Linked DNA regions of Homo sapiens: region 2 is linked to region 1. Evidence: fine-mapped expression QTL. A gene starts in region 1. The other region holds a variant in brackets. All regions are shown on one strand. Distances are between the middles of the regions. Region 1 holds the start of GRPEL2 (GrpE like 2, mitochondrial). Region 2 overlaps ABLIM3 (actin binding LIM protein family member 3).

The links. PIP is the estimated chance that this variant, and not a neighbour inherited with it, causes the effect. A credible set is the group of variants that fine-mapping cannot tell apart.
Region 2: its variant is the best candidate, but not a certain one, in a credible set for the expression of GRPEL2 in whole blood (INTERVAL, PIP 0.70).

What each region holds. Positions count from the first base shown.
Region 1 is chr5:149,339,231-149,355,676 of GRCh38, reverse strand. GRPEL2 (GrpE like 2, mitochondrial) reads right to left here and starts at 10,178. Exons shown (of 4, transcript NM_152407.4): 1 at 10,061-10,178; 2 at 7,252-7,405; 3 at 5,942-6,023; 4 at 1,094-4,759. The coding sequence starts at 10,137. The coding sequence ends at 4,395. AFAP1L1 (actin filament associated protein 1 like 1) reads right to left here. Exons shown (of 19, transcript NM_152406.4): 19 at 12,040-15,670. The coding sequence ends at 15,647. It overlaps GRPEL2-AS1 (GRPEL2 antisense RNA 1), which reads left to right. Exons shown (of 2, transcript NR_132366.1): 2 at 7,279-7,561. RefSeq lists enhancers at 8,221-8,721, 9,246-9,869, 9,870-10,495.
Region 2 is chr5:149,204,661-149,221,106 of GRCh38, reverse strand. ABLIM3 (actin binding LIM protein family member 3) reads right to left here. Exons shown (of 24, transcript NM_014945.5): 6 at 13,973-14,099; 7 at 10,288-10,381; 8 at 4,061-4,148. Among named protein-coding and RNA genes, the nearest start is that of AFAP1L1, 59 kb to the left of the region's middle. The variant G/A (reference allele first, on the strand shown) is at 6,712.

The sequences.
Region 1 (16,446 bases):
GGGTCCAGAAAATGGCAGTGTCACTTCCACTGTATTCTATTGGTCAAGCAATCACAAAGCTCCAAGGAAACTCAAGAATGGACATGGGCCCTACTCAACAAAGGTGTCAAGAAATTCTGGAGCCATGTTTTAAAACTACAGTGAACTTGAGAGCATGGACATCTGAGTGGATAGGAATAAGAATATACTCACTGACTAGCACTGGGAATATGGGACACATGGTTTATGGAGCTACAGTGTACAGACAGTATTGGAAAGATAATGAAAACGCAAGACCAAATCCCAGGGAAGGCTGGCCCAACAGAGGGCCATTCAGCCAGGAGTCTAGGTATATGGAAGCTAGCTGAGAAGCAGAGGTAAAGACAAGGCCAGGCAGTCACAAGGTGGGAAGGACATGGGGAAGCTGAAGGTCAGAACAAGGCCAAGTGTCTGTAATCTGGTTAGGAGAATAGTCAGCAGTAGTCAAAGGAAATAAGACACCTAGAACCAAAAGGCGAACCCAAGAAAACAAGTCAATGCCAGAAAAGAAGGCAGAAATAGGGCTGGGAACAGTGGCTCAGGCCTGTGAGCCCAGCACTTTGGGAAGCCGAGGCAGGTGGATCGCCTGAAGTCAGGAGTTCAAGACCAGCCTGGCCAACGTGGTGAAACTGTCTCTACTCAAAATACAAAAAATTAGGCGTGGTGGCAGGTGCCTGTAATCCCAGCTACTCGGGAGGCTGAGGCAGGAGAATTGCTTGAACCTGGGAGGCGGAGGTTGCGCTGAGCTGAGATCGCGCCATTGCACTCTAGCCTGGGCAACAAGAGCAAAACTCCATCTCAAAAAAAAAAAAAAAAAAAAAAGGCAGAAATAGGAATCCAGATCTAAGAAATATGTAGCAATCAGAAAGAGGCAAGTCAAGGAGGAATAAAACAGACAAGACTTCAACACGGAGGCAGGGTGGGGAAAGCCCACAGTGCATCCACTTGGCTATGCTGCTATGAGATCTCAAGGTACCTCTCCAGAGCATCAACAAGGCAGGTCAGCAGTCATGAAGTGACCATAATGTTCCATATACAATACGAATAGGCAGACAAAGACTCTAAACACCAGAGCTGCAGTTATTTCAATTCAGGTTTTATTAAAGTTGTTTCTGAATATTTTTTCTCAGTGATCCTTGTTCTGATGAATATTACATTTCATCCTTAGTTTTGCTCATTTGATTTTGCTTTAGTGTTTAAAGAACTTTTATTTATCAAATCCTTTGCCATGAATGAGAGCACCAAATAACATATCAATACCCAACTGCCTGATTCCTTTACAGCAGTAAGAAAAGTCAGTAAAACATTTGTACAGTCCAAGTACTACAACACCAAGATCCCCTCTTCAAGTGAGAGTGAGCCAAAGCTTCCTTAGTATCATCTCAAGTCAATGTCTTTTCACTATACCATTAAGATGAAAATAACTAAGAGCACTGACACAATTTTCTTGCTCTTTCCATCTAAAAATGTGGGTTTCCTGTGGTGTGGCTAATTTTAAAAACCAGAAAATGGAAGGAAAATAAGTCAGTGAATGATTAGCTTACAAGTTTTTTCTACTCATCATTAACCAGTCTTCCCTTTTCCCTAGACTTTAGACAGCCATAAAAAGGCAGGAAAAACAATGTGCATAATAAAAAAATAAAAATAAATATCTGAGCACCTACTGTAGTAGGCATTTAACACATTTCACTTAATCCTCACAACGCTGTGAAAGAATTATTATAATCATTTTACGAATAAAGAAACAGGCTCAGAAGGGTGAAATCACTGGTGCCTAAAGTCCTGCAGGTGACTGAGCTGAGATTTAAGTTCAAGCCTATGCTCTAATATGCTGCTTTGGCTCCCCAAAGCCCTTCAGCTTGAGATTCTTACTACTATAGCTTCATCTTCTAATTCTAAATTTACACTTTTAAGTCTGCAAAACTACTGAATAACAAAAGAACCTAAAATTATTCTGAATTTACTTGCCAAAACGGGAGGTGTAATAGACCATTAGAAAATTCTTCTAGCCTGGACAATATAGTGAGACCCCGCCTGTAAAAAACAACCAACCAACCAAAAAAAAAAAACCAAAAACCAAAAACCAAAAACCAAAAAACAAAACTAGCCAGTCATGGTGGTGCACTTGCCTGTGGTCCTGGCTACTTGGTAGGCTGAGGTGGGAGGATCACTTGAGCTCATTAGGTAGAGACATCTCTTTAGGTAATCATAACATTCCATACCTAAAATTATTGTTAATTGTAATTAATGTTAATTCTAACTGGTAATGATAGCTAGCAATAAAAAAACACACAGAGAGTAATTACAATCAGCTCATTTTCTTATTGTCACCATCTGTCAAATCTCACAGAATGGAAGGCAAAAAAAGACAACTTCCTATTGTGAACCTTGATTGTTCATTAAATTTACAATATATACTTAGTGGAATGCCAAAAGATGTTCTGGTTTTACAAGCTTAACCACCAGTCTTTTGATTGCATTTTAAAAGTGCATATTTACTTGTTTTTTAAGGGTCTAAATCTGATGAAGATGGTAAGGCCCACAAGGAGATGGCTTTATTGATAAGTTTGTGTGCTGTCTTAGAATTATCTATAATGTATAAGAGGTTAACTTTCCACCACTCCACTGAATGTCATAGAGTTCCAGTGGAAAATGAATTTTATTTTATTTTATAACTTCAACCTAAACCTATATAATCTAGACATCCAACAACATCTGATTGTCTGCTGGAGACTTCATTGCATGCCCATTAATCTTAAATGGAGACTTAATTGCATGCCCATTAATCTTAAATGATTGACATTAATATCTAGTTGTTCTTCATTCATACTCTCACTGGAATTTAGTCAATAGTTTAGAGATTATTTTCCTTGTGTCCAGTCCTAAAAAGACTAGATTTTCATACTTCAGAAGCAGAAAGGGTGAGATTTGATCATTAAGGCCTCTTCCAACATTAAAATATCCATAATTGACTGCCTTCCTAAAATCTGACTGATGTATCATTCATTAAGTCGTTTATTGGACAAATCTTTTACAGAACACCAGCTATAAGACTGAAAAAAAACCACATAGGCCCATTAATTCTAGAGGTTAATATATAAAAGGTGAGCTCAATGTTTACACAGATGTGACTTAACAGATACAAAGAATAGGAAATAGAGCTTGTCAATATAACAGAGGTAGTGATTTGTGAGTACCAACTTAAAAAAAAAAACAACAAAAAAACTTTGCGGGCGCAGTGGTGAACGCCTGTAGTCCTAGCTACTTGGCAGGCTGAGGCAGGATTGCTTGGGCCCAGGAGTTGGAGGTCAGCCTGGGCAACACAGGAAAAAAAAAAAAAATTGCCAAGAGGAGAGAATACTTATGTTAAGTGTTCTTATCGCAAAAAGTAACATAAATAGAGCCAGAGGAAACTTAAAAAAAAATTCAGCATTAACTATTAATAAATGAAATGAGAAATCATGGGAACCTAACACTTTTGTCCTGATCACCACCTCCCATCATTTAATAAAGGATTATAAGGTAAAATTGACAAAAGGGCAGAGGAGTAAAGGCTGGTGGAATAAGTTGTAGGTAAATTACCCAAATAGAGCCATCTGGGTCATTAGCTGTTAGTGTTGCCTCAGTTTGCCTGAAATGATTATATGACAAGGAGGCTGAAAATAATTTGAAGAGCAAAGACAGCACAAGGCTTTTTGGCCATTCTTGCTTGAAAGGGTCCTGGGTATCTCAAATTTCGATGCTCCTTGCCTTCCAAGTCTCATCTAGACCTTTAGCCCCTGCAAATGGGGATGAGAAAGGGGTGGGTATGGGACAATGATGTGAGCATAAAGCCTATCTAGTTGGGATTACAAGAACAAAAGATGGCTAAAAGGAAAAAAACAAAACAAAAGGTAAAGTCCTGAAAATCTATGTGTATAAAAATCAATCCAAATGATCTAAATTTATACGACCACGAAGCTTTATCCTCTAAGTACCCAAATGTTGAACCAATCCCTACCATCTCCTTTTTCCACAAAATACAAGATACTACACAATTCCTGTTATAGAGACCGCTAGGAAGAAACATGTAGTTGAAAACCCATAGTTAAAAGGATTTTGGATTCAAATTTATCACAGTACCAATTTTCCTAAACATGTTTTGATAAAGGCCATTGGAACACCTGTCACACTGTTCAAATGCCCAATGGTAAGACTTCTGATGAGACCAAACAGGTCACATTAAATCAATAGAATATCTTAGAAATAAAGCCAATATGACTAAATCCAAAACATATCACATGAAGTACCTCATGTACAATACAAACCTAGTTTAATAAATAAAAGAAACATAGGTGACTGCGCTCTGGGAGAACATCCAGTTCCTGATGGCCTCTTCACAGTCTTCTCTGAGACTCCACTGCCACTTCCACTCGGGCAAGCCTAATGGTGCGGCCATGAAGTTTGTAGCCATCTTGTCTTACTAATGCCACGGTGCCAGGCTGCACCCCAACACCAGCTGGCACATGACAGATGAGTTCATGCTCATGGGGGTCATATTTGTCACCAATGGGTGTCAGTTTCTCCAGGCCATGCTTGGCAAACACACTTTTCAGCTTTGCTTCTAAAAGCAACAACCCTCGGAAGACCTTCTCCAGAGTGAGCTTTTGGTCCTCAGGCTCCGATTCTTCAGAAATGCACTCTGTAGTCTTCTCCAAAATGTCAGCCACCTCCACCAAGTCCTTACAGAAACTCTGGATTCCTGCAGAGAAGCCAGTTATTTTTATTGTTTGTGAGGAAATCACTCTGCCCGTGGGCATAGAGTTTGGGTAAGGCCTAGATAGACGGCTAGTATGCTGAGTAGTCCAGCAAGTGGAAAGGTTGCCACACAGGACTCAGAGATCATCACTGATTACCACCCCAACCCAACTGACAAGTCAGTGTCTCTCTCAGAAGGCATATATGACTAGGAACTTGACTAGGAAATGGAAAAGACAGAACCCAAGAACTAGGTAAGACTATACACAACAGGCTTAAACCTGTTCTTTAAAAACAACTATTTTTATGTACATGAATTTTTGTTGCTATTTGCTTGTAGTATTATGTACATTTTGAAAATTCCTGCCTGTCCCAGTTGTGCTATGGCATACATTCTCAACAGGGACAAGACATTAATATTTCACGAGAAGGGCACTAACAATAAAAAAAGAAAGTCAACAACACTATGCTAAGGGGTGTCATGAATGGTTTATTCTTGAGGACTGGCTAAATAGGAACACGAAAGTAAGACACAGCCATAGATGAGGTAAGTTGGCTATGAAGTTGCTAGAGATGGACCACAAAACTTGTCTGATTTTTTAAAAGAGTCATACGAACTGTTACAAGACAAAAGTAAATTCAGTTGTTGAGAAATCCCATTACGCTCAATTCTAAAACTTGATTTTTCTTACAGAAATGAGGGCAAGAAAGTCATCATTAGAGAGGTCTATGACACGATACCAAAGCTCCAGTGGGGGCTGGTGAGAGTCAAGGACTTTGTTAATCTGACTTTAATCCAGGGACAGGCTTAAGGCCTTGTGTCAAAACAGGCTAGGTCTTTGACTTTGAAGTCAAAGACATTTTTCATTTTTTTTTTTGAGACTGAGTCTCATTCTGTTGACCAGGCTGGAGTGTAGGGGCATGATCCTGGCTTACTGCAACCTCTGCCTCCTGGGTTCAAGTGATTCTCGTGCCTCAGCCTCCAGAGTAGCTGGGATTACAGGCGCCTGCCACCATGCCTAGCTAGTTTGTATTTTCAGTAGAGACGAGGTGTCATGTTGGCCAGACTGGTCTTGAATCCTGATCTCATGTGATCTGACAGCCTTAGACTCTCAAAGTGCTGGGATTACAGGCATAAGCCACTGTGCCCAACCAAAGACATTTTTATTGTAAATAAATCTCTCACCAAATATCTTGGCGTCTTCCACACATCTCTGGGTTCGCCTCCTTATGTTTTCACAATCAGCTATAGCTCTCTGGTATCTCACCTGAATATCAAAAGCAAAATCAAAAGGATGAGAAAACAAATACTTATTGGTGGAAGAGAATGTTTTTGCTTACTTTACAAATTTCACCCTTTTGATAGGTTTTTATAAAACAAACTAGGAGTTACAGAAATCTTAGATCAGCTACTCCAAATCCCCAGTCAACGCAGAAACCCACTCTTTAGCAGCACTGCTAGGTAGTCATTTAGCCTGACAGTTCAAACTCCTAACGGTTTCAAGTTCATTATCTTGAGGAAAAGCTTTCTTTTTCACATTCAGCCAACACTGCCAACCTCCAACTTCCTTTCATTGACTTGAACTTAAGGATAACTGAGAATAAGTTTTAAAAGTATGTCATCTAGGCAGGGCACGGTGGCTCACGCCTGTAATCCCAGCACTTTGGGAGGCTGAGATGGGCGAATCACTTGAGGTCAGGAGTTTGAGACCAGCCTGGCCAACATGGTAAAACCCTGTCTCTACTAAAAATACAAAAATCAGCCTGGCATGGTGTCAGGCACCTGTAATCCCAGCTATTCGGGAGGCTGAGGCAGAAGAAGCACTTGAACCTGGGAGGCAGAGGTTGCAGTGAGCTGAGATCATGCCATTGTACTCCAGCCTGGACAACAAGAGTGAAACTACGTCTCATTTAAAAAAAAAAAAAGTATGTCATCTATTTGGAGGCAGTTATTTTACCCTCTTTAGTCCTTTTCTCTCTCATTCTTAAGACAATTCGTGGTTCTTTCAATTGCTGTCATAAGGAATGCTTTCCAGCCTCCTTACCATTCTATCTAGGTGGTTTTGCTTTGGAATTCCTCTAGTTTATCTATCTCCCTCTAAGTGTGTCTATCAACCCAGGACTGGGTCCAGTATGCCAGACATGGTCTCATCAGCAAAGAACAATGGTCAGTGACCTCACTCATTCAACAAATATTTATTGTCTACTATATTCCAGGCACTGTACACCTCCTTTAATCTGCTGAAACATCAGATATCTAAGTGCTGTGACATAACAGGAAACCGAAAAGAGATGACTATCTTTAGCCAGTGGTGTTTTTCAACTACTACAGTTTTTTTCTGCCCAGTATACCTAGCAAGGAGTGGAGGAGGGATGAGGGGTAGCAGATAAAGAGCCAATTAAAGAAAACTTCATTTTGAAAATTGACATAAAAAACTTTATGTGGATATTTAAACTAGAGAGAGGATATGAAGAAGAAATATAAAATTGACTCACTGTTAAATCTTGGACTTCTTTCTCCAGTTTAACAGCTTTTACCCTTAAGGCTCGTTCAGCAAGAGGGGGCCCAAGCTCATCAGGAGGGTCCTCAGAACGGCAGTCCTCACCAGCAGTTCTCTGGGTGGCAGTGCTGAATGGAAGCGGCCATCCCCTAAAACAGGAAGGAGGTGGCACATAATGAAGAAATGCCATCATAAGCCAAAATTACAACCAAGTTTAGAGACCAGAGATCTTCCCAGATGGAATCTCTGGAGAAAGTGTTTTCAGTTATAGTAACAAATGAACACTTACGAAGTCCTTACCATGTACCAGACACTGTTTTACTTGAGTCATCTTTTCCTCTCACAACAATATGTGAGATAAGTCCTATCATTATCCCTATTTTACAGATGAGAAAACTGATGCTGAGAGGCTTAAGGCATAATGGCCTGCTCAAGATCACATAGTTGGTATTCCGCTGGGTCAGGACACTAAGAACCAGGCAGCAGAAATAGCCAGAACTGGGTATACAAAAGTCAGCATAAGGAAACCAAATGCTAGTACCCAGAACCAGAGGAGCATTGTCAGAAGTGGGCATTCAAAAAGTCATATAGTTCTGGTTCAACCTTCTAACTTACAGATGAGGGAAATTAAGTCCAGTAAAGGGACCTTAAGGCTTAGAATTCTAAGCCTTCCTCACCACAACCTGTAAGGCTTTTAGGAGACCTGTGCTGAGAAAGAAATTCCCACCTATAAATAAGATCAAGTCAATGAAATACTTATACAATACTATATGTTACTGCCGGTGAATAGACACAGGTGAAAATAGATCTTTGCATTCAACTAGTTATGTAATCTAGAATTTTGTACAGCTAAACTGTTTTGACATTTAGTTCAGTTTACACAGAAATAAATTTAGACTAGGGGCTAGTTTACAGCAAATCTTGGGCTGTGGCAGTCCTGACCTGGCCCAGTTCAAGGAAGTTTCCACTGCAACTCCTGGATCTTCGTAATTTGACTGTAAGTAAAATTATCTTGAAAATCAATCTGTGAGTACATGAGTTCTTTAAAACAATTTTTATGGACTGGCATATACTGTAGAGTGGTCCTCACGGAGACAGCTGAGCAAAGGCTTAAAGAGGGTAAAGGAGTCAGCTTTAGAAAAGGGAAGAGCATCCTGGGCAGAGCAAATAGCTAGTTTAAAGGTGTAAGCAAGAGGACTTTTATCTCTCCTACTTTCCAAGCTGATCTTAAATTCAATTATTATAATCCGGTGTGTGATTTTATAGACAGTTCCACATTTTGGGGTCAGAAAATATGGTCACCGTAGATCTGGGGCTAATTACACACGGTGAAACATCTTCTCCCTAAAAAAACCACATTTATCCACTTGAAAAAGCAGGTCAAAATATTCTCAGGGGCCGGGCGCGGTGGCTCACGCCTGTAATCCCAGCACTTTGGGAGGCCGAGGCGTGCGGATCACGAGGTCAGGAGATCGAGACCACGGTGAAACCCCGTCTCTACTAAAAATACAAAAAATTAGCTGGGCGTAGTGGCGGGCGCCTGTAGTCCCAGCTACTCGGGAGGCTGAGGCAGGAGAATGGCGTGAACCCGGGAGGCGGAGCTTGCAGTGAGCCGAGATTGTGCCACTGCACTCCAGCCTGGGCGACAGAGTGAGACTCCGTCTCAAAAAAAAAAAAAAAAAAAAAAAAAAAAAAAAAAAAAAAATTCTCAGGGCCAGTTCAAAGGGAAAATGGCCAAAGCTTAGACCAAGAAATAGGGTTGGGGAGTTGTGGCCAATCTCAATTCCTACTGCTTCAGAACTGGAGTAGGGAGACAGCTTACCAGAAGGAACCATTTTTCTTCTGGTCATTTCCTTACATCACCAACAAGCTGCCAAAAAGACTTGAGAACGGTAAGCAAAACCAAGTCCCGAAACCCTGAATGCAACCTCTCACTTAGGTGCTAGGGTAGGATGTTGGGTCAGGTGTGTTAAGGTAAAAAGGGTGACATATGTAGTTAAGCACATTTACCAGATTCTCCCGTAGCTTACTTTACTATTCAGAGGTCCAACCCTACCTCGTACTCAACTATTTTTATTCTCTATCCCAGGAAGAAACAGTGTAGGGGCAACAGTCTCTGAGAAAATTAATTAACATCGCTCATTAAATAAGAGCGCCGATTCCAACGCCCTGACTGGTTTCCAGCCCGGGTTCCACCACTTCCCAAATATTTAAGTTTGGAAGTTACTCAACTTTTCTAAACCTCACTTTCCTTAACTACTAAATGGGTAATAATAAAAAGAACCACCCATAATTCTGCAGTCGGCCTCGTAAGCGACCAATAAAAGCTGCCGATGGAACTTGTCTTCCGAAGGCTGATGCAATGGCCGTTTGGAGAAACAAGTTCAGCGGCCTCCTTTTACTGACAGGTACAACAGTGCCCGGATAACGGAGAAAGGACTGGCCTTAGGTCACACGGAGTGAGGGGAGAGAACCCAAATTTACCCACAGGTACCACAGGCTGGGAGAAGAGGCCGGGAGAGTGGTACATCCCTCCCTTGGGGGCTTAAGAGACTTCTCACCTTCCAGGCCATGCATGACCTCGGATCTCCTTACCTTCCTCGGCCTAAGAAAGAGGCACGGCTGATGGCCTCAGTTTCCCCGTCTGTAAAATGGGGCCGTGAGTGCACGGTCGTAGAGGCCGAGAAGCTTGGTCCCCTGGCCTACGCTCAGATAGCTCTCGCCTTCCAGCCCACAACCACCCCGGCTGGCTCGCTAGCCCCTCAGAGTCCTCACGCTCCCGACTCCCCGCCTGCAATGCTTACTTGCTCTCCCACGCGGCACTCCAGGCCAGTAGGCGCTGCACCCGCAGCCGGCCCGCCCACAGCGACCGTACGGCCATGTTTCCAATTTGGGCTGAGAGGCAGCGCACGCGCACTTGCTGCGAGTGAAGAGATGCTCCCGCTTAAAAACCAGCCTTTGCGGGCGTTTCCCTCTCAGGACTTCCGGACAGGAACGCTATGCTTCCGGTTGCCCGATGGGCCGCGCCGTTCCCCATCCGGTCGTCCGGAGCTAAGGCAACACTTCCGGCTCTCAGTGTGTTCCGCGGGTAGGCGAGGTCCTAGTAGTAACTACAGTCTCCGTGCTGGGCGCAGGGTCGGCAGCAAAGAAAGCAGATCATAGCTGTGCCCGCATGGAGCTTACTTGATATTATGAGCGATAAACAGATACAAGCGGGATGTAAAGTCAGAATATGAGCGGTGTTTGAAGGTGAGGGGCAGGTGTCGCGGAAGCCTAGAATAGAAATCTAGCCTTGTGGAAAGTTTTCCCAGAGGAAGGGGGTATTTGAGCTGAGCTGAAGAAAGGGTTCAGGCAGAGGGAAACATCTGCAGAAGCCTAATAAAGAGAGAAGAGTATTGCATGTAAGGGACTGAAATATACTGAGGCGGGAGGGCAACAGGACTGGTGGTTAGGAAGGGCTAGATCACGTGAGCGGTTTAAAACATCGCAGCCTGAACCATTGCCCATCACTCCTCCCAGTCTTTTTCTCTAATGCCCTTCTTATCGACTGAATTGTTTTTTTAAATAGTGTGTATTTTCTCATTTCCTCTCACTAAAATATAAGCTCTTTTAAGGCAGAGATATTGTCTATTCATTCCCATTGAGCAGTGCCCTAATGTAGGTGTTCAAAATTATTTTTTTTGAGATGGAGTCTCACTCTGTCACCCAGGCTGGAGTGCAGTGGCACGATCTCGGCTCACTGCAACCTCTGCCTCCCAGGTTCAAGTGATTCTCCTGCCTCAGCCTCCTCAGTAGCTGGGATTACAGGCGCCCACTACACCCGGCTAATTTTTGTATTTTTAGTAGAGACAGGGTTTCACCATGTTGGTTAGGCTGGGCTTGAACTCCTGACCTCAGGTGATCTGCCTTCCTCAGCCTTCCAAAGTGCTGGGATTACAGGCATGAGCCACCGCCCCCGGCTTCAAAAAACTTTTTTGCTGAATGCAATTTAGTCTGATTCTGATTGCAATGGAATGTGAAAATAAATAAAACCTAAAAGCTGTTGGAACCTCCCAAATACTTGAAGCTTTGAGAGAGATGTGGCTGTGGTCTGAGTCCATGTAGCATGTTTTGTAGTTCTGCTTCTTAGAATTATAGCTTAATTCTCTTCCTCATTGTTCTTGTTCTGTAATGACTAGGAAAGAGCAGAGACCAGATTTCTTCCCTCTCAATTACTGATGTTTGTAATAGACAGCCTCCTTTATTGTCCTGCACCTAACTCAGACTAGATGGTGCCCTGAACTGAACTGACCCCATGACAGTTACATCTGCAGGATGTGATGTTAAATGTACCTTTCTTGAAGGAAAAAGACCACCTTAACTACTCAGATCATTGTAACTGTGCATTAAGCCTTGCATAGAAAGATGTTGAAATTCTGTTAAACCTCACTGAACCCAACCTTTCACACTTTGGAACACTGACTTCCATCTTTTTTAAGACAGACATATTTTTCCATTCTGTGCTTCCTGGGCAGGCCATCCTCAACCTTTGTGCTTGAATAAACTCTCTTTAAACTAGATTCTGACCTTTTAAATTATTTTAGATTGACAGGGAACATGTGACAAAGGCTTTCATGTTTAAAGAGTCACTTTGACTGCTGTGTGAAGCAGATTGCAAGGTGTAAGAAAAGAGGTAGGGAAGGCAATATGTTGCAGTAGCCCAGGCAAGATGGGGCTATATTCTGTCCTGGAAGAACAGAGAGAGACCTTCCTAACCACTGTAAAGTAACTGTGTCCAGCACCCTTTTAGTTTCTTAGTATTTTATTTCTTTTGCTTCCTTGTTAAGGTTTTTTCCTCCAACTAGAATGTGAGCTTCATGAGGTGTCTGTCTTGTTCACCACTGATTTCTGACATCTAGTATAGTAGGTACTCAAGTATTTGTTGAATGACTTAATTAAGTTGGATAGTGTCAGTGAAGATAGGAAGATATGGATGAATTTTAGAGATTTAGGATGGAAAGCTGACAGACTGAGAGGATGGATTGGTGACTGGGGTCCAGGGCACTTGGAGTTGCCAGCTTAGTTACTGGATAGTCCCTTAATTTTTTTTTTTAAGGGAATGGGAAGTGTTCCTTGAGCACTCTGAATCTTGTCATAACATGGGTTATTTGTACTGTAGTTATTTGGGTCACATTTTCTTTCCTGCTTGTCTCTGAGTTCCATGAGGACAGAGCTGGAGTATTTTCATCTTTTTATCTAATCCGAGGTCCAACTCAAATGTGTCATGACCAATAACTTATATTTTCTTTTTGGCCTTATGAAAAGGGTGATATGGTTTAGGGAGGTATTATGATTCTCTTTTACATATGAGAAAATTGAGGCTCAGAAAGGTTGGTAAACCTATGCAAGATCCCGCAATAAGGAAACAGTGACAGTAGAATTCTGACAGACTGAACACTTGGCAGTGTTGGGCTTAGACCTGTGGCTTACACTTTGAAAAAACACAACCAAATAAGGCATTTTTTTTTTTTTGAGATGGAGTCTTGCTATTGCCCAGGCTGGAGTGCAGTGGTGCGATCTCGGCTCACTGCAACCTCCACCTCCCGGGTTCAAGTGATTCTCCTCCCTCAGCCTCCCAAGTAGCTGGGACTACCGGCATGTGCCACCGTGCCCAGCTAACTTTTGTATTTTTGATAGAGATGGGGTTTTGCCATGTTGGCCAGGCTGGTCTTGAACTCCTGACCTCAAGTGATCCACCCGCTTCGGCCTCCCAAAGTGCTGGGATTACAGGCATGAGCCACCATACCTGGCCTAAACAAGGCATTTTAACAACCAAGAACAAGTGGCATCTGTGCCTTAGCCATTTTGCTTACATTTCTCCTAGCTGCCTAACGTTCACCAGGTTGCTGCTTGCATCCATGCATTCATTCGTCTATTTATTAAGTGCTAGTGTGCTTCTGAATGTTGCAGTACAAGGGGAGGGAGATATATGGATGACATAGAGCTTTAAAATTAAGAATAAGGCTCTAGGGTCAGACTTCTTATATTCACATGCTGGCTCCACCAGCATGTAAATATAAGAACTATGGGAGCTTGGACAAGTTACCTGACCTCTGTGAGCTTCCATTTCCTGAACTGTGAAAACTAGGGCAATATAACTTATCTCAGGGTTTCAGTGAAAACTAAAGGGATAATACCTAGAAAAGTGGTTAGTTAGCACCAGGACTGGCTATCTAATTTAAAGGGCAAAAGGAAAAGCAGAACTCCTTGTTCAAATATGATTAAGAAGGCAATAGTAGAGCATTAAACCAAGAACAGGGCCCTTCTAAGCATGGGGCCCTGTGTGACTGCACAGGTTGCATGCCTGTGAAGCTGGCCATGGCTGACACAGTGCCTGACATATGGTGAGTGCTTGATAAATGTTAATTATTAATTACCCCCAGCCACTCCTCTGAGAGTTCATCTGTTGGTGAGAAAAGACACTTAACCCCAAAATAACTGCATAAGAAAGAGTATGACAGACACTGAAGACATAGTTGGAGAGTTAGGTGACATTTCAGGATCCACGTTTTAAAAAAGAACACTGAAAAGTAATTTCCTCTTCAGTGGAAAGAACACAGGCTTGTGAGTCAGACATTTCTGATATAGCTAATAATAGCCACTTTTTTTTTTTAATAGATGGGGTCTTGCTATTTGCTTAGGCTGGAGTGCAGTGGCAATTCACAGGCGTGATCATAGTGCACTACAGTCTCAAACTCCTGGGCTCAAGCGGTCCTCCTGCCTCAGCCTCCTGAGTAGCTGGGACTACAGGCGAGTACCACCATGCCTGGCTAATGAGAGCCACTATTGACTGAGCATTTCTTATTTCTCAGACACTATGCAAGATGCCTACTATATATTATCTTATTAAATCTTCCCAACAATCTTGGGAGAAAAGTAACAATTGTTAGTCCCATTTCACAGATAAGGAAAACAAGAATCAGAGCAATCAAGTGACTTTCCCAAGGTCACCCAGCTGGTCATTAGAGGCATGGCTCAAACCTAGCCCTATCTGGATCTGGGCTTATAACCCCTAAGTCCTACGCTCTGCCACTAATCAGTGGGTGATTACTGGTCAGGTTATTTTTCCTGCTGTGGTCTCCAGCTACCTCAGAGGGTGATAAAGTTTGAGTGAGGCTAAAGTCTGTAAAACCTTAGGTGGGTTAAAATATGTAACCCCTATAGCAAAGTGGCCACGGTTATTCTGGGATTTTCCTTCTTTCCTCTTGAGCTAAGCACTGGCACTTAAGAGTTAAGTGGTTTTATCTTTATTGGAAGGAAATGTGTTAAAGACAGACTCACTACAGTGTTGAGACAGTAGTGAGTAGCACAGTAAGGAGACTGCCCAGGACTTGAGGTCCTTGGTCCCTCTATAGAAGTATCAAGTGTTTGTAAAAGGTTTAGCACCCATGTGACAGAAAGAAGCCATCATCCTCTTAATTTCTCTTGGTTTTACTTAATATATAGAAGGGCAAACTAGTGGGCCTCTGAGTGCAAGATGAGGACTTCATTAGAATAAAGACATATTGCCTCCTGGATTTCTAACCCATAGCTCCAAGAGCCTCAGTGTCAGAACATAGGTAAGGGACTTGATTTACTGAGAGACCCTACCCTACAACATCCTGTGGACATTAGAGCTCTGTGCTCCTGTCACTGAGTATCACTGTGAGCTTAAAATATGTCAGCTGCTCCATTTCTCTTTCCTTTTGTGTATTCAGAGCTCTGATTTTAAAACACTGAAATCTGGAAGATTCCAGTAGCTGCACTCTGTCTAAAGCATATGAGGAATGACTGTAGAATTTGCATGTCCTCTATAGCTTTTGTTCACATGTATGCAGGCAGGGATAATGTTATTGATTGTTCAACCTATTTACCTTGACCAGGGGTTGTTAGTAATGCCCAATATGAATCAAGTTGGCACAAGTGTGATCAGATGATCAGGTCTTGTCTCTTTACACTGCACCACCAATGCTTCAGCACTGCCTCCCTTTGCCTTAAGGACTGGGAGTGCGATGCTGTGAATGGGATGGAAGGGGTTATTCACATGTGCTTTCATTACTTCTTCCCTTCCTCAGAAGGGAAGGCAAAGACATCTATAAAACCTTTACAGCTGTGCAGACTTCTGTATCCCTCCATCCTCATTTCCACCCTTTGTAAAGTCATAAGGATGCTCTCCATTTCCCTCTTCCCTTCTACTTGTTCCCTCCCCATATCCCCTAAAATCATGCAGACAATAAAGGCTGGTATTTTGGGTGCCCTGGAGAACGAGGGCTACTTCCTAGTCTTCTCTTGGTGTCTCCTTGTGAAAAAAGCATTTCTTCCTCAGGTGGACAAGCTGGTATTTCCTTTGGAATGAAATCCTCATCCTCTTCCTAGGTCTTCTTCATTTCCCATTCCTGAAGCACAGAAAGAGAAGACAAATCAATTTGCTGAATGGTCTAGTGTGACATGGATAAAGAGATTTCACGGCACCTAGTTAGATGAAGATCTCCACTAGCCAGGTTGCGTTGGGTTCTAACCCCCTCTCTCTCTTTCTGTGGCCCTGAGTAAGTCACTTCTCCATGCTGGTATCTCTTGTCCCTTCATCCATTCTCAACATAGTTGCCTGAATGGTCTTTAAAAAATGTAATTTATATCCAAAACCCTTTGCTCAAAACCTTCCATCATGTCACAACAAGATCCATTATGTTAGAACAAGATCCATGGTTCCTCAGTGGCCTGAAAGGCTTTAGATGAAAGGCTGGTAAATGATAGTCTGTGGGCCAAGTCTGGCCTATTGTCCATTCTCATATAATCCATCAGCTCCTATTTCTAAATGTTTGGAAAAAAAAATCAAAAGAAGACGACTATCTCATGACACATGAAAATGATACGAAATTCAAATTTCAGTGCCTGTAAATAAGTTTTATTGGGCTAGGTGCCGTGGCTCATGCCTGTAATCCCAGCACTTTGGGAGGCCGAGGTGGGCGGATCACGAGGTCAGGAGTTCGAGACCAACCTGACCAACATGGTGAAACCCCCCGTCTCTACTAAAAATACAAAAAAATTAGCCGAGTGTGGTGTTGTGCACCTGTAATCCCAGCTACACAGGAGGCTAAGGCAGGAGAATTGCTTGAACCTGGGAGGTGGAGGTTGCAGTGGTTGCAGTGAGCCAAGATCATACCACTGCACT
Region 2 (16,446 bases), 130 kb after region 1:
TTGGCTTGAAATATCCCTTTTTAGGGGCACCTTCCCTGGCTTCCCAGACTAGAGCAGGGGCTTTATAACACATGCCCATTGTTCAAAACTTTCTCTGTGCAGCACTTGTCACAGCTTGTCATTGAATGTTTACACTTCTATTTGGCACTGTTGGTTTCTCTTTCCAGAGAGTGAACTCCACCAGGACAGCAAGCATGCTTGCCTCACTCATCTCTGAATGCCCAACATGTAGCAGAGAGCCTGGCACATAGCGTGGCCCCCAGTTTGAGTGGATCAATGAAAGACGATGATGTTATCCTCATTTTACAGGTGAAGCAAGAGATCCAGAGAAGGAAGCCACTTCTCAAGGTCACAGCCTATTAGTGGAATTGCTGACGCTTGAACCCGGGAGTCCTGGCTCTCAGCCACTTCTTTACACTCCTGAGCTACCCAGGAGCAGGGTTTTCTTGCCAATTCTGGGGGATATCATATTGAATCCTGGTGTCCCCACTTGGTGAGGGTGTCCAAGGCCCAGATCTCAGTGGTAGCAGAACCCCCACAAGACACTCACAGCCCAAGTGAGCGTGACTCTAGCACTGCTTGGCCTGGTCCCCCTCATTCCAGGATCACTTAGCATCCTTTCAGGCAGGTCCTTGAATGCCCTGCAATTACTCCCACTCTCCCAGGAGCCAGGAGAGGGATGGGGATAATTAATGAGAAGGTGACAGGCTCATCTTCATTACTAAGAATATCTCCCACCCTTGGAGGCATTTCCACTGTAGGTTTAATGGTGCATTCTCTCTCAGGATCACAAAGCTATGCACTTTACTTCCTTGCTTAACTCTTTTAGCACCTGTGGGAAGTTGGAAGAATGAAAGCACTAACCTGTGAGGCTGTGAGCTCCATGAGGGCAGGGCCTTTGACTGATTTGCTCACTGCCACACCTTCAGTTGTGAGAACAGCAGCGGGGACACAGTAGATCCTCAATAGATATTTGCTAAATGAATGATTGAAATGGGAGCTTCCCATGTGTCACGAAATTACTACACCTATATCTTATAGCAACTGTTCTCGGTCTATTTTACATATTAGACAGCCAAGTTTCAGAGAGTTACGAGACTTGCCCAAGGTCAAAAACTTAGTAATCAGTGGAGCCAGGATCCCCCCTGAGGCACTCTGGGTGAAAGCACCCAACAGGGAAAGATTAAGATTAGGAATTCAGGCAGGGAGGCAAAGACGTGGTTTATTCTAGTGATATCCAGGTAGGGATGAGAATGGGAGGGCAGTTTCAATACTAGGAGGTTTGTTCACCAGGGAAGGAGGAGAGGAATATTGTGCAACAAATTTTCAAGCCAAGTGCAAACTCCAGGTTCCCATGGTGGTCAGGATGAAGGCAGGGTGCAGGTTGCTGAGCCTCATAACACTGGTTCCTGCAGCAGGAATCACTCAAGAACCCAGGCAATGAGGGATTGGTGTGCACAGGAAGGGACAGGGACCTGAATATCAGGCAGGGCCTGGGTCCCAGGGGTAAAGTGGAAAGAACCCTGGAGGGGAGACGCAAGGCCAGGCCCTGCTCTGCCCTGACGCACTCCCATTCTCACACAAGTCTCTTCTTTTCTCTGGGTCTATTTTCCCCATCTCTACAATGAGGGTTGGCACTTTACAGTTTAGAGTGACTCTGGGATCCTTACCACTCCAGCATCAGTTCATATAAGTAAGTAGACAGCATCTTAGAAATGGTCACTTTGTTTAATCCAACATAGGAATTCCTGCTCCAGGATTCTTAGCAGATGGCACAAGTTTCTGTTGGGTAGCTCTGGGCCAGTGGTTCTCCACTGAGGATGATTTTGACCCCCTAGGGACATGTGGCAATATCTGAGACATTTTTGATTGTCAGTGGGAAGAAGCACGTGGTTGGCATCTAATGGGTAGAGACCAAGGATGGTACCAAATACCCTACAATGCACAGGACAGCCCACAGTGTCACCAGTGCTGAGGCTAAGGAACTCAGCTGTAGGCACAGGGGGACTCATTGCATCTTGAGGGAACTCATGGCTGTGGGCATTGTGGCTAGGACAAGCTGATACTGACACACTCCCTGTAACTGCTGCCCTGGCCTTAGATCTACCTGGAGGAAGGGCCCTAATTCCTTCTCAAGATGGCTATCCAATCACAGCGATTCCACCAATGACATTCACCTGTGGAGGGAGTATGCATGGGCCAGGGTCAGGGCTGAGGGACAAGTGCCAGGAGCACAGGACCTTAGGGAGGAGGCCAACAACTCTCATACAAGCTGGAGGGGACCAGGGGCAGACAGAGGGCTGTGGGGATGGGGGAAGAGAGGACTGTGTTAAATTGTGGGTGGGGTTGGGGAAATCCTGGGTGCCTATGAAGCATGTAGTGACTGAACTGGGCCTCAAATGATAGGATTTCCAAAGAAGGGCACAGGAAGACAAGGGAAAGGGCCATGAGTTCATTTTAAGTCCAAACAAAGTCTCTCCACAAGGCCCAGCCCATACACCCTGCTTGCCTCCTGGCTGCATCTCACTTCTGTCTGCGCCCTGGCCACACAGGCTCCACTTGCCCTTATGCACTCGCCATTTCTTCACCCACCTCAGAGTCTTGCAGGCTCTGTCCTCTCATTTTGGTGCATCCTATTCCACTTTTTGTTCAGTTGCTATGGTCTGGATGTTTTTGTGTCCCCCACATCCATATGCCAAAATTCGAACCCCCAAGGTGATGGTCTTAGGAGGTAGGGCTATTTGGGAGGTGATTAGGTCATGGACCAGTGTCCTTATAAAAGAGGCGCCAGAGAGCTGCCTTGCCCCTTCCACCATGTGGAGACACAGAGAGAAGGTGCCATCTCTGAGAAAGTGGGTCCACATCAGATACCAAATCTATTGGACCCTTGGTCATGGACTTCCCAGCTTCCAGAACTGTGAGAAATAGATTTCTGCTTATAAGCTGCCCTGTCTGTATCTCAGTCTGCTGAGGTTATAACAGCCCAGATGAACTACAACATCAGTTAACACCCACTCATGGTCTGGATCTCAGCTCCTGGCCCTTCGTCAGGGAGCCCTCCTGGGGCTCCTCCTACCCCGTTATGTGCTCTCAAAGGCCCACACTTCTCTCCTTCATAACACTTACCACAGCTGATGTTTATTTATGTGATTATGGATTAATGCCCATCTCCTTCAGGGGACTGTAGGGCTGGGTGAGCCTCACCATGGACGCTGGCACAGAGCCTACACATGGCAGGGCTCAAGAAACAATCATTGAGTGGATGAATAAATGATCAAAAGTTAGCTTTGGTAGCTTAGGTGTCGGGTATGTTCAAGGCTACAAAGGAAGCCTGGGACCTTGGCAAGATTTTAAATGCTAGGCTGAAGTGTTTGTAGCTAAATAGGCAGACAGGGAGGGGCTCTGAAGAGCAGGGCAGTGCCAAGAGCACGTGATGCCCTGGGATGGTGGGCTGGGCAGAGGGTAGAGGACTGAGCAGAATCTGGAGACTAATTAGGGGACTGTTGTAAGAATCCTGGGGTAAGAGGGCTGGGAAGCAGCAGATGGAAAGCAGCCCTGGTTAGCTTTGTGGGGACGACTGGCACTCCTCATTCCTCTGTGTGTTCTGAGAGTCCCTGGGAAGCCCTGAGCAGCAGCCTGGCATGATGCTCTGAGATGTGGGGAGAAGGAGGTAGAGTAGAGGCTGTGATGCTATAGACACTTTGCAACCCAGGCATCCCTCTGAGGTTCTCTGACCCCTTGGGCCTGTGCAGCTCAGCTTCCCACCCCCAAGGCAGAGCCAGGAGAGTCTGCTCAGAGCACTGCCAGGGAAGCAGTCCAGCTGGGCAGCGGGTGGAGGTGCACAGAGACGGAAGGCAGATTACATGTCACTTCATATTAGCCACACCGGCAACCTTCCCAATCCACCCAGAGAGGGGCCAATTAATTGCAATTCTGAGGACAAGGCAAAAGCCAAGATAACACTGAACCTGAAGCCAAGATAACACTGAACCTGAAGATCGCATCTCCTTTCCAGTCATGAGCAGGTCGGAAGGCCTTACAGAGGGTCAGATTTACTTACCTGTGAGGTACATTTCCTCTCCTTCGGTGAACATCTGGTGGCAGCGTACACACCTGGCACAGGTTGGGTGGTAGTGCTTCCCTCCTGCCTATGGAAATGAAAAGATGAAACAGGAGGTCAGAGCCAGGGCTGCTGTCTAGTGGGGCAGATTGGGTTTGAATCTTTCCTGGGTACATTAGTGTTGTTTGCATCTTCATGGCCCTAAAGTTGGTTGGAGCTACCCAAGGGAGTCCACAACCATCTAAAAGACCAGCCGGGAAGCTTCGTGATTCACTCCATGGATCCCTGATGGCAGTTCAGGGGACTTCCCTGAATACCTGCTCTTCTATTCTGACACTGGGAAGGACACTTGAGAGGCCACTGGTCCAACTTCCTCATTTCCAGAGGAGGAAACAGGCTTGCTTTGAGGACATCCCAGCATTTCCCCAAGTGAGAGGCCCTTACCACTAATGTTACATGAAATGATTTTAAGTGGTACATGAACTTGGGATTTAATAACATTGGACCAATGGAAAAAAAAAAAAGATCTTTTCAGTCCTCTATACATTCTTCTGATTTTGTCAAGGACGAAGTACCAGTTCGGTGCTTATGTGTCTTTAACATCTATCCAAAACCTACAAATCTGCCTTTTAAAGAATGAGAACAGGTGTGAGGCTTGGAACCTCCACATGCAATAGAATCTAGCTAGAACTCTATTTATTTTCAGGTTACATGCAATATGGCAAGTGATACTGCTTTCCTGTTATGTCGTATATAAGTTTCCTTACATATAAGGGAGCCAACCTCAAGACACTTAAAGTATTATGGAAGAATCAGCTCACGAGGTTCACAGACATGGCAAAAATTGTGAGACTGGCACACAAAGGACAGATTTTTAGGGCTCAGTGGGTGATTTAGGACCCACTGTAGAGCCCCAGATCCCCAGGCCAGTCCTGTGACTATTTTGCCCTGGTGTGTCCAGCCCTACCGCAGCTCACCCCAGTGTGACTTTGGTGAGTGCCTTCCCTATTTTCACTTTCCTTCCCCATCACTATTTAAATTAAAAATGAAAATAATTTGCAGCTGCAAAGACTTCCATGGGGGGAAGAAACAGCCCCTGAGAAGGTTGTGCCTCAAGGGTTCACTGCAAGCCAGCAGCAGTGTTGGGTCCGGATGTGTGTGAGTCAGTCACCAGCTCAGCACTTGCTTCTGGAGTCACAATTCTAACACCAAAATCCCAGCCAAGAGGGCTTGTAAAAGGGAACTTCAGCGGCGGCTCCAGCATTTGTATATGCAGGAGCTTGGTGCAGCAATTGGGTTGGCAGGTGGGCCTTGTTTGAAGAAATATTTTGCAACGTCAGGGCAGGGTTTTCTTTGGGGGAGGGTAATGCCCAGGGGAAACTGATGGATGTTAGGGGTTCTTAAAGGTCCCTGTCCAAGCCATCACTTGATCTGATGCTAATGGGTTCCTTCCAATTCAAAAATTATAATTGCATAATAAGAAGACCTATTTCCAAACTTAGTTTTTTTTTTCTTTTTTTTTTTATGTGGGGGGAGTGGAAGATTGTTGGGATGGGCTTGCCTATTCTGGAGATATTATCTCTATTCTAAAAACTTAGCAAGAATGTGGGAAAGGCAGATTTTTACAAAAAGAAAAAAATCTCCAATATTCCTTTTTCCCCCCGTTTGTTTATATGGCCTCGCACCAATGAGACAGTGTCCTTGTCATCATCAAAGCGAATATGTTCAAACTTTGGAAGGAGCCTGCTATTTTCCTAAGCTGGAATGTGTGGGACTGATTCCCTTGTACCATGACAAGGATAATCAGTTTAATTAGCAGCCTCTTCCTACTCTGTGTCTCTTTATCATTTTGATTATAGACCTGTTTTCCAGTGTGGCAACAGTGCCTTGGCAAAACTGAAGCCTAGCATTTTCCTAAATGTCATGCCCCACTACCTCACCCCAGCTGAAAGAGGCTTTGTGCCCATCTCAGCAGCCCCAGTCTTGGATGGTGTTGAAAACAGTTTGAGCAAAGGGAGGTAGGGCAGCCTGCACCCAGAGTAAGGAAAAGCCACGTCAGCTAGCTGAGATGAACCATTTTGTCTATTAACGAACTGAAATCAGGAAAATAGTAAAGAAAAATGGCAAAAAATTGGTACCCTCAAAACAGAGCCCTATTTGAGAGGACCGAAAACAGCAAACCAGGTTCAAAAATGTAGCAACAAGCAAACCAGGTTGTGGTCCTTTTTGGTGAGGAAACAGACAGGGATGGAAGGAGTGACACTGACAGCCATTGAGCTCTGTCACTGAGGAAGGGACCATGGGGTGGCCTAGGGAGGAAATGGGAAGGGACAGGATGAGAAGAGAAGGAGAAACAACTTAATTGAATGCCTGCAGTGTGCCAGACGATGTGCTTGGGCGACTGTTGTTCCTGCATGGCCATCATTCTTTCCTCCTTCTTCCAGAAACAGTCCCAAGCCTTTCCTTGGTGGGGCTACCTCTTCTCCATATCAGTCCACAGGGTTAAGTAGTGCTGACCCCACCAATGAGCATATTCCAACTTTGTGGGCACAATTAGTGGCCCAGGGATGGGCCTGAGATTGTCCAATGAGAGTCAGTCCCAGAATGCTTGCTGAGCTATTAGAAAAGAGAAGTTCTTTTTTCCACCGGGC[G/A]TGCCGGCTGATAGAATCTAAGCCTGGGGCAACTGGTGTCCAACTTTCCCATCACCAAGAACGCCCTCCTGAGAATAAACTTAACTTGGAAGAAAGTAAGCCAAGATGGCTGGGGATTCTAAATGATTTCGCTTAAGCACTGGATCCAGCTCCTGGGCTTTTTGTTATAGGAGCTGAGAAACTTCCTCTCTGTTGCAGCCCAAAAAGTCTTGACTAACGTGTTCATTAGGAATTAAATGACAGTAGTATTGTCTGTTGATAGATACAGACTAAGAGGACATATCTTGCTTAAGGCTTCAGGGCTAGAAGTGGTAAAATCTGAATCCAAGTCTGTTTTACTGCAGCCATGTCTATTTCCTGACATCATGCTACCTCAAAGACCCCCAAGTGGCTGAGAGCTGTGGGTATCGGTAGATACAGCAGCCTGGAGTCCTAGATTTTAGCTCTGTCTCTACCAGAAATGCTGCTTGTGACCTTGGAAAAACACTGCATGTCTTGGTCTCACTTTTCTCATCTGTAAAATGAAGAGGTTGAACTAGTTGATTGCTAAAAGTCTCTTCCAGCTCTAAGAAAAAAAAAAAATCAATAAGTCGAAGATGCTAATGGAGCCTTGTAGAAATGGGATCAATCGAAACTCAGTCACAACAGCTGCCTGGGAGGAACAGTCTACCGCAATGCTAAACAACGGTAACTCTCGGGGAAACGGCAGCTGCCACCAACAGGATTTCAAAGCAGCTTGGAAATGCTGAACAAATTTCCATCTGTGGCCCTGTCTGTAATCTAAGTTCTTTCTTTCTGGAAAGAAAAGTTTCCTTTTGTAATATCTCCCACCGCATTGACCCTTCAACCTACTACACTCTGGATGCCTCTTCCCCACAGTTCTGCAAAGCCAACAAACGACTCTTCTGAAGGTGACCTTTCCCACATCCAACAGCTTTTCCGCAGCCCACGCAGTCCTTCACTGCTCTACAGAGTTTGACCAACACTCTGACCTCACCATGTTTTCTGAAGCTCTGTCCTTTCACTGAATGCCCGATTCTCTTCCCATATCTTCCTCTGCTACCTCCTCAGTCTCTTTCTGAGTCGCTTTCACTGTGAGCAGCTGCTCGCCAAGGTTGGTGTCAGCCTCCTTCCTTGCTCTCTTTCCTCTGTCTTGGAAATCCTGAGGACTCTGGTGGTGCTATTATTCAAAGCCTCACGTTTTTAAGATTGGCTCCTCCAGGCCTGAGCTTTGTTCCTGAGCTCTGATCCATATTTCTTTTCTTTTCTCATTTTTCTTGCCTCGGACAGGATCTTGCTCTGTTGTCCAGGCGGGAGTGTAGTGGTGCAATCTCAACTTATTGCAACCTCCACCTCTCAGGCTCAAGTGATCCTCCGGAATGGCTAGGACTACAAGCGTGCACCACCATGCCTGGCTAGTTTTGTTTATTTTTTATAGAGATGAAGTCTCACTGTGTTGCCTAGGCTGATCTTGAACTCCTGGACTCAAGTGATCACCCTGTGTTGGCATCCCAAAGTGCTGGGATTACAGGTGTGAGCCACCACTCCCAGCCTCTGATCCGTATTTCTGACTGCCTTCTGGAAACACTCCTGGGATTTCAATCACAACTCATCCTAAATGGTACTCGCCATGTTTCTGCCAGATCAGCTTTTTCCCCTGTCATCCCCAGTTCTGCCAATGACACCAGGCTTCCTATCCCTCAGAAATAGATAATTCTTTGGTGCAACTTTTAGCTGCTTCTCCTTCAATCCCCATGTCCACAAGCTGCCCCTCAGTTGCAGAGTGATTGGAATTCTACTTCCATAGGGCTGGGCACAAGGGTGGCTTCCCTCTCCATTGCTACTGTACCTCTTGAGTCCTTCCTGCCTGGGTCACGCAGGGGCCTCCTCACTCATCCCTTCCAGCTTCCTTCCTTCAAATGTAGCCTGTGTACATTATCACGTCATCCTCCCAGAAGCCCAGCTCTAACCAGGACGTTCCTTCCCAGTCTCTCCACAATGCTCCCTTGCCCAGTGAGTCACATGCAAACTCCACCCTGGTATCCCAGGCCCTCAGAAACCCACCCCCAACAACCCTTCCTGGACTCATGCCTTGTCCTCTGCATCGCACTCCTTACAGCTCTCGAGATGCTTAAATGTTTCCCAGCTCTGCTCATTTGTTTATATCTCATTGTCTCTGACTCTCTCTGAAAATTCTCCACACAGTAACCACAGAAATCTTTTTAAAAACATGATCTTATCATGTTAGTCCTTGGCTTAAAACTCTCCAATGGCTTTCCATTGCACTGAGTATAAAACCCAAACTTCTAAACATGGTCTACAAAGTCCTACATGGTATGCCATATATGATATACTCTTATATTTCATCCTCCCCTACCCTCAATTTATAGAATTCAGCCACATTGGCAGACTGGGTCAGCTATTGTGAGCAGAATCATTAATTCAGCCAAATCTGGCCACTTGGTTGTGGTTACCATGAGTGCTTGTGTTGAGAAAAATTCTGCAGCCACAATTCTGTGTGGGTTCTCTGTTCTTTGAATGGGTCAAGCTCATTCTTCCTCTATCTTTTCCCACCTCAGGGCCCTTCAGGGATAGTTCTTTCATCCTCAGGGCTCTGCTTCAATGCATGTCCTCAGAGAGTTCCTTCCTGGTTGCTACATCCCCTCCTGCTGAGTCTACATGTGGCTGCAGACTTGTTCTCAACAAAGCACTCATGGTAACCACAACCAACTGGCCAGATTTGGCAGAATTAATGATTCTGCTGACAATACCTGATCCAATCTGATCCTCTAGCTATTGTCATATGGAAAAACTGAGGCCTAGAAAAGCAAAGATACTTACTCAAAATCTGAGCAGGAGTAGAGTCAATACTAGAACTCAATTATTCCTGTTAGGCTATTATTTTTCCTTTCCACTGAGCCCTTCCCTGTTTCTAATTCATCAAGGTGGGTGGTCCCAAAGTATAGGAAGATAGCTTCCAGGCCCACAGGGTATAGGAAGAAAGGCCGGAAAGACCAGTGCACAGGGGCTCAGCAAGGCCTCAGCAAGGGTTTTGCAGGTTGTCTGTCACTGCAGAAGGAGTCATACATCAAAGGCTGGGGAGAGGCGTTGCCATGGTGATGGACCCACCAAAGAAGGGCTTAGGGAGCAAGCTGCTAGACAAGCTGGCTCTTAAATCAGCACATTACCAAATACTAAAACAAACAAACAAACAAAATAAATAATTAAATAAATAAATAAATAAATAAATAAAAAAGACTTCCTTTCTCCGGCAGGGCTGGGAGGAAAATCCTAATGTCACTCTTTAGAAATCTGTCTGGGTCCGAATCAAAGATACAACTGATTTTCCCAGCACAGCATTTTTTGAACCAGGAAGAATTTTGTCTACCTTCTCATTTTGGGGTTTCCCAGAGATCTCAGCAAGGTTATCTGCTCAAGGTCATGTAGCAAGCAAAGGTGGAGGAGGTAAAGGCTATGGAAAAAAAGGTATGGGATGACTTTCTCCTTCTTCTGTGATGACTTTTTGGAGGCACAGATCACCCTGCCACATCTTCACGGTTACTTATACCCACTCACCTCCAAGACTCTGCCACTGATGTATCGGTCACAAGTCTCACATTTAATGCCAAACTGGGCATGGTAGTCGGACTCACAGTATGGAACACCATCCCTGCAAGAAGAAGTTCACATAGGATGAGGAAGTTAGGGAGGATCAGTGAGGGTGCACATGGCATTTAGATTCTGGACCTGCAGCCTATGTTGACTGAGCCAAAGTTCGATACTTCTCCTTTAATAAACAATTTCATCTGTATGAAAGAATCATCTGACTGTGCTCCCAGATCAGTAGATGACAGGAAGCCTCCTGGGACCACCTCCTGTGTGCTCCATTTTTTACCCAATGTTTATCACTTGGCGGACAGTGATAAGATTGTTATCCCTTATTCTTATACCACCCCCTATGACTAATAGCCACTAACATTTGTTGCTGGTGTGCGCCGGGCTCTTTGATGGTGTTTGATGGCAACCCTATGAGTCAGAATTATTAGTATCCCCATTGTGTAGGTGAGAAAACCTAAGCATAGCACACTTTAGTAACTTGTCCCAGGCCACCCAGGATGACCTAGAGCTGGAATTCAAACCCAGGTTGTCTGGTTTCTCACCCAGGTTGTCATGAGGATTAAAGGAGATGGGTCCAGTGTACCCTAGGGCTCAGGACAGTGCCTAGCCATACTGAGTACTCAGCAAATGGCAGCTGGAGGAATGGCCATGATTGCTGAGAGGAGTCTTTGAGGAGGACATTTGGTTCTCAGTTCTCTAGGACTGAGGTAGAGATAGTTGGGGGCATCGGAGAGCTTAGCTTTGCTTCGGGCTCTGCCTCGCTCTAATGACCAAGTCTGAACTCTGAGGAGAAACATTTCTTTCACTTTTGGGTGTAAGAGAACTTGGCTCAGACACTGAGAGACCTAAAGGAGAGGCACATCACTTTTCCATCTCGAAGCTGTTGCCCTGATGAGGTTGCTGGGGGCCCACCCTGGGCAGCATTTTCCTGGAGAAGCAGCAGTGAGGACCAAGGTCTGAAGATGTCCGACCAAGGTCTGGAGGTGTGACTGTGCCCACAAGGCAAGGACTTGTTTGTGAGCCCCTGAGACACACCTCCCCCAACCCTTTCAACTCCTCCCTCCTCCCCCGCTCAATCAGGTTCTCACTCTGTGGGTGCGGGAGGGTAGCTCTGCAGGGAGAAAAAGTCATTTGTCAGAAGGTGGATGTGATGAGCCAACAAGATTTGAGTATAAATGCCAACACAATCTCTTTTGGATCCATCCTTCTCTTGGGGAATTAGCGGTACACAATTCTAAAAGAGGATGGTAAAATGAGTATTTACTGGGCAGTTATTGGGTGCTAAGCACAGATCTCTGAGCCCTTACACAACCCTACAGGTAGATCATCTTCTCTCCATTTTTATAAATGAGGAAACTGAGACTCTGAGCAGTGGAGTCCCTTGCCAAGGTCACATAGGCTGCGCTTCTATCCTGGGCATCTGATGCCTGAGCCAGTGCCTCTGAGCCCCTGCCACTCTGCCAGCAGCCAGGTAAGGGGCCCAGAGCTATGCTGCAGAGGTACCAGGTGTGGTGGGCAATCTGGGCTGGGCCTCCTTGAGAGGAGCTCTGAACAATCCCTTAAGTCCCTAGAGAACTCTGATTTAGGCTTCCAGACTCAAGCACTCCTGGCTGGCAATGTACTAAGGGCACTCCTTGCTTGGTGGGCATAGAGGGGAATGCCAAACTCCTGCTAGCATGGCATCGAGAGCTCTCGGTGATGTGACCTCAGCTCACCTATGCAGCCCAGGATCTGGCTTCACCTGGGCACATGTTTGAGCTCCTATACAGGATGGAGATGTCCAACACTCCCCTACTGCCCTGGCCTTGCCCAGGCTGGCCATTCTGCCTAGAAGCTCTTCTTCTTTGCATTTTTGAATCTTACCCCCACCTTCCATGGAACTCTCAGAGATTCAAGATTCTACTTCATGCTAGTTAGCAGTCATCCTTTTTTTCTCTGAATATTCACAGCCCTTTATTTGTTATCTTGGACACAGGCAGGTGTTGTTTGGCCAGCATCCATTTCCCCTTCTGCTGATAATAGTACCTCGCCTGGATTTCCCTTTGGAAGCCACCCCTTCCCAGTTGAGGTCCCTGTGGGTCACAAGAGGCTGCTCTCTGGCTCTAGGGTTCAGATCCTCTGGGCCAGTGATTGGTCAGGAATGGGCATGTGGCCTAACAGTGGCCAAATCAGAGGCAGACCTGGGACTTTTGCTGGAGTTCCTGGGAAAGAGGCCTCTTTTTCTGCTAGGCTTGGTATGGAAGCCTGGAGTGTTGGCAATCTTCTTTGCTAGCACTTGGGGAGGGCCAGATTGAGAACTAATCCACCATGAAGACAGCAGAGAAAGACAGGGACAGAGACAGAGAGAGACAGAGAGAGAGAAAGAGAGACAGAGAGAGAGAAAGAGAAATTGAGAGAGAGAGAGAGAGAGAGAGAGAGAGAGAGAGACAAAAAGATAGATAGAGAAAGACAGAGACTTCTGAAGTACTAATGACATCCTTAAGCCCCTGGATTCCTCCATGTCTGAAGCCAGTGTGCCTCTGGCCTTCCCATTTCTGTGAGTTAATAAACTCCTATTTTTGCTTTTAATTGAGTTGGAGGTGGGTTTTCTGTCACTTAGGATCAAAAAGGTCTTAAAGAATAAAGCTTGTCTGGGCTCCTGATCACACATTTCCTGGTGTCATAATTCTTCATGAACGCAGCATATCTGTTTCCCGTATTAGACTGCAGGGTCTTGACAGCAGAAGCATGTGTGCTGCAGCTCTGTGTGCTTGCCACTGCCTGGCATCAGGCCAGAGAGTGGCACCTAGAAGGGTCTGGGGTCATATGATGTCAAAGCTGTGACAAAGGATCTGTGCTGATAATTACTTTTAGGTACTTGAGTATATAAATGTGGTCACTGGGGCCCAGCAACAAGAGGACACTTGTCTAATACTGCAGTGTGTGGGTCACTGGAGGTTGGCCCCTCTGGATAACTATGCACCCATCACCTCCTCTCATATCCATTAAATTCATTCAGCAACTATATTATTGACTGTGGGTCAGGTGTTGCTCTCAGGGCAGGGGATATAGCAGTGATTAAAACAAAGCCCCTCTCCTGGTGGGTACAGAGATTAAACACTATTACTGGAGCAAGTTATTTACTCTCTCAAGTCTGAGTATTCAGTGGGGATAAATTCCTCAAAGGGGCAGTTATGAGGATTTAAAGTGATACTTCATACAAAGTAGTGAGTTCCTTCTACATAATTAAAGCTCAATAAATGGTAGATAGTATTATTAGCATTATTACAAAGTTACCAGGGATAAATATGTAATTACCAATGGTGGTAGCCTGTGTGAAGGAAACAACAAGGTACTCTGAGGGCCCAAAACGGGGCAGTAAATGAGAGACGGCCGGAGGGGAAGGCATGGGGACCGAGACCAGAAGGGAGAGAAGGGGCAGCAGGCGTGCAAGGAACAGGGAGGGTGTCTCAGGCAGAGGGAAACCCCCCCGGGAGGGTCCAACGGGGGAAAGAGGCTGCTGGGAAAGATGCTGTTTGGCCAGAATGCAGCAGCAGACGGAAAGGAAGGGAGATGATGCTGGAGATGTAGGCATGGGCTCAATGGGGCAGGCCTCACAGAATGCAGAGGCCCAGGCAGCTGGGGCAGGAGCAGGGGGACCCACTTGCTGATATACTCCCCGGTGAGGATGACGCTGCAGGTCTGGCACTTGAAGCAGCTGACGTGCCACTGCTTGTCCAGAGCCAGGAGTGACTGGCCGTGCTTGATCTCCTCCTTGCACCCGGCACAGTCTGCAAGACAAGAGGACACTGCTGAGCAAAGCACCCTGGGCCCTTTAACCCCCGCTATCTCAGGCCCACGTCAAGGAAACCCCTCCCTGAATGCCAGTGTTCCCATAGTTGCTCCCACCTGACACTGGAAGCTTCCCAGAGGCTCTCCCAGGGGAGAGAAAAAGCCACTGGAGTCCTGGCCTCTTGACAAGGGGTCTTGGTGTAGGAGAGAAAGAAAGACCTCCCTGCTTGTCATCAAGACCACATTGTTCACTGAAAGTGGACCCTGCACTGCTTCCAGCCCTCCTCAAATTGCTAACTAAGCTCTGCTGCTGTCCGTGACCTTGCCATCTGCAGCGTCAGCATCACCTGGAAGCTGGCAGTGTGCAGCATTGCAGACCCCACCCAGACCTCTTGAATTTTAACAAGACCTCCGTGCAGAGTAAAAGTTTAAGAAGCACTGCTCCTGGGGATGGGCTAAGTATACAGTTTTTCAAACCCTTAGGCTATATACACATTGGCAAGGGCTGTGTTTATATTTTGTGGTTAAACCTATTCCTTTGCCTAGCACAGTGCTCAGCCCATAGCAGTAACTCAAAGCATATTTGCCAAATGTGTATGAATGAATGGGCCTGATGGTACCCAGGCAACAAACAGAATTACCACACCCACCCCTTCCCCATTGTGCTTCACACATCGAACATGTGCCTTCCCAAGTGGCAAGGATTACAGGGTCTGATGAGACTGTCCCAAACCAGAAAGGTGCCCTCACTCCCTGACACGGTCACCCTGGAATGTGAGTTGGGGCCAAGAGAATGTGGGACAAGCCTAGCATCAGCTTGTTGCTCAATGAATGTCTGAGGAGGGTCCGGAAATGGAGCCAACGTCCAAGGCACTTGGAAACTGCTGGGAATTCAGGCCTAGCCAACCGGATGACCCACTTTGGCGGAGGAAAGGGTCATGGGGCAAAGTTGACCAGAGGACAAACTTCCCTGTTGGCTCCATAAGACAAATGCACACTTGGGAGTAGTGAGGAGAGCAGAAACTGCATGTAAAGTTAGGGGATTCTGGCTGGACAGCCCCCACATCCAGCTGGGAGCCTGTCCTAGAAGAAAAGATGATGTGTCTGCAAATCTAGGAAGGGTGGTGGGTCCAGCCGGCTGTGGGGAGGGTCTGGGGCCTTGATGAAGTGTTTGTATGAGTCAGTTCCCACAGTACTCCGCCTCTTGGCTGTTGCGTGCCTTTCTAACATCCCTTAGTACAAGTTGGGGGCAGAAAGGTCTCTACTTGCAAAATGCTTCAAGCCCCAGGCCTTCAGATGGGGGCTGAGAGAATAAAGAGTTTCGGGATTTATCTCTCTTCCTTTCTATTCTCCTGGGGTAAGTCTATAAGTCTACTTGCACCCCCTGCCCAATAATTAGACTCCAGAATGCAATAGTTTAGAGAGGTCAGGTACCCCCTTCTCTTTTACAGATAGACAGGGGTCTGAAATGACTTGCCCAAGCTCAGTATAGAGGAACCCAAGGACTGTAGACACCTGGTCAAGCTTTCTAGGTCACTAATACTGAACTTGTATCTCTGTGGGCCTCCCCAGCAGGGCCTAAAAATTCCATAGGGGTTTGGAGTTCACAGAGTATTTGGTCAAACATCCCACCCAATGCAGTAACCTACAGCATTCTCGACAAGTGGGCACCCTCCTCTGCTTAATCACCTCCAGTAGTGGGCAGTTTAACCCCTCCTGAGGAAGGGGTGGTGAGGAAGTCCACTCTGCCCTTGGACAGGTATGATTGTCATGACTGTCTTCTTTATATGGAGCTGAGACTTGACTCCCGTGACTGCTCCCATTCTTACGCATCAAGAATAATCCACCTCTTTTCCCATACGACAGTTCTTTTAAAGAATTAAAGACAACTATAGTTTCTCTCTTCTTTATTCCTTACACTTTTTCTTGCTTGACATGATCATCCAGTGATCAAATTCACTTGTGGATTCCATGGAGAAAGACATGTAATTGGCAAACAACACAATTCTCTGTTTCTTCAACAAAACTTATTGCATAGCTGTATCCTTTCATGGCCATACTCTAGAAATGAATCCTATCTCTTCGACTTTCAGTGGTACATCTGAGATAAATTTAACCCCTTGAGTTAAGCTGTAGGAGAGAGTACAGCGCAGTGGTTAGAGGCTGGGCTGAGAGTTGGAGTGAGCAGTGGGAAATTGGCCCAGGAGAGAATCCCAGCTCCTTTTCTTATGAGTTGTATGCTCTCTAAGCCCAGACTTGCTCATCTGAATATCTTCCTTAAAACACTGGTGTGAAGGTTAATTAAAATCAGGCCCATTAGGCCTTAGCACAATGCTTGGCCCATAT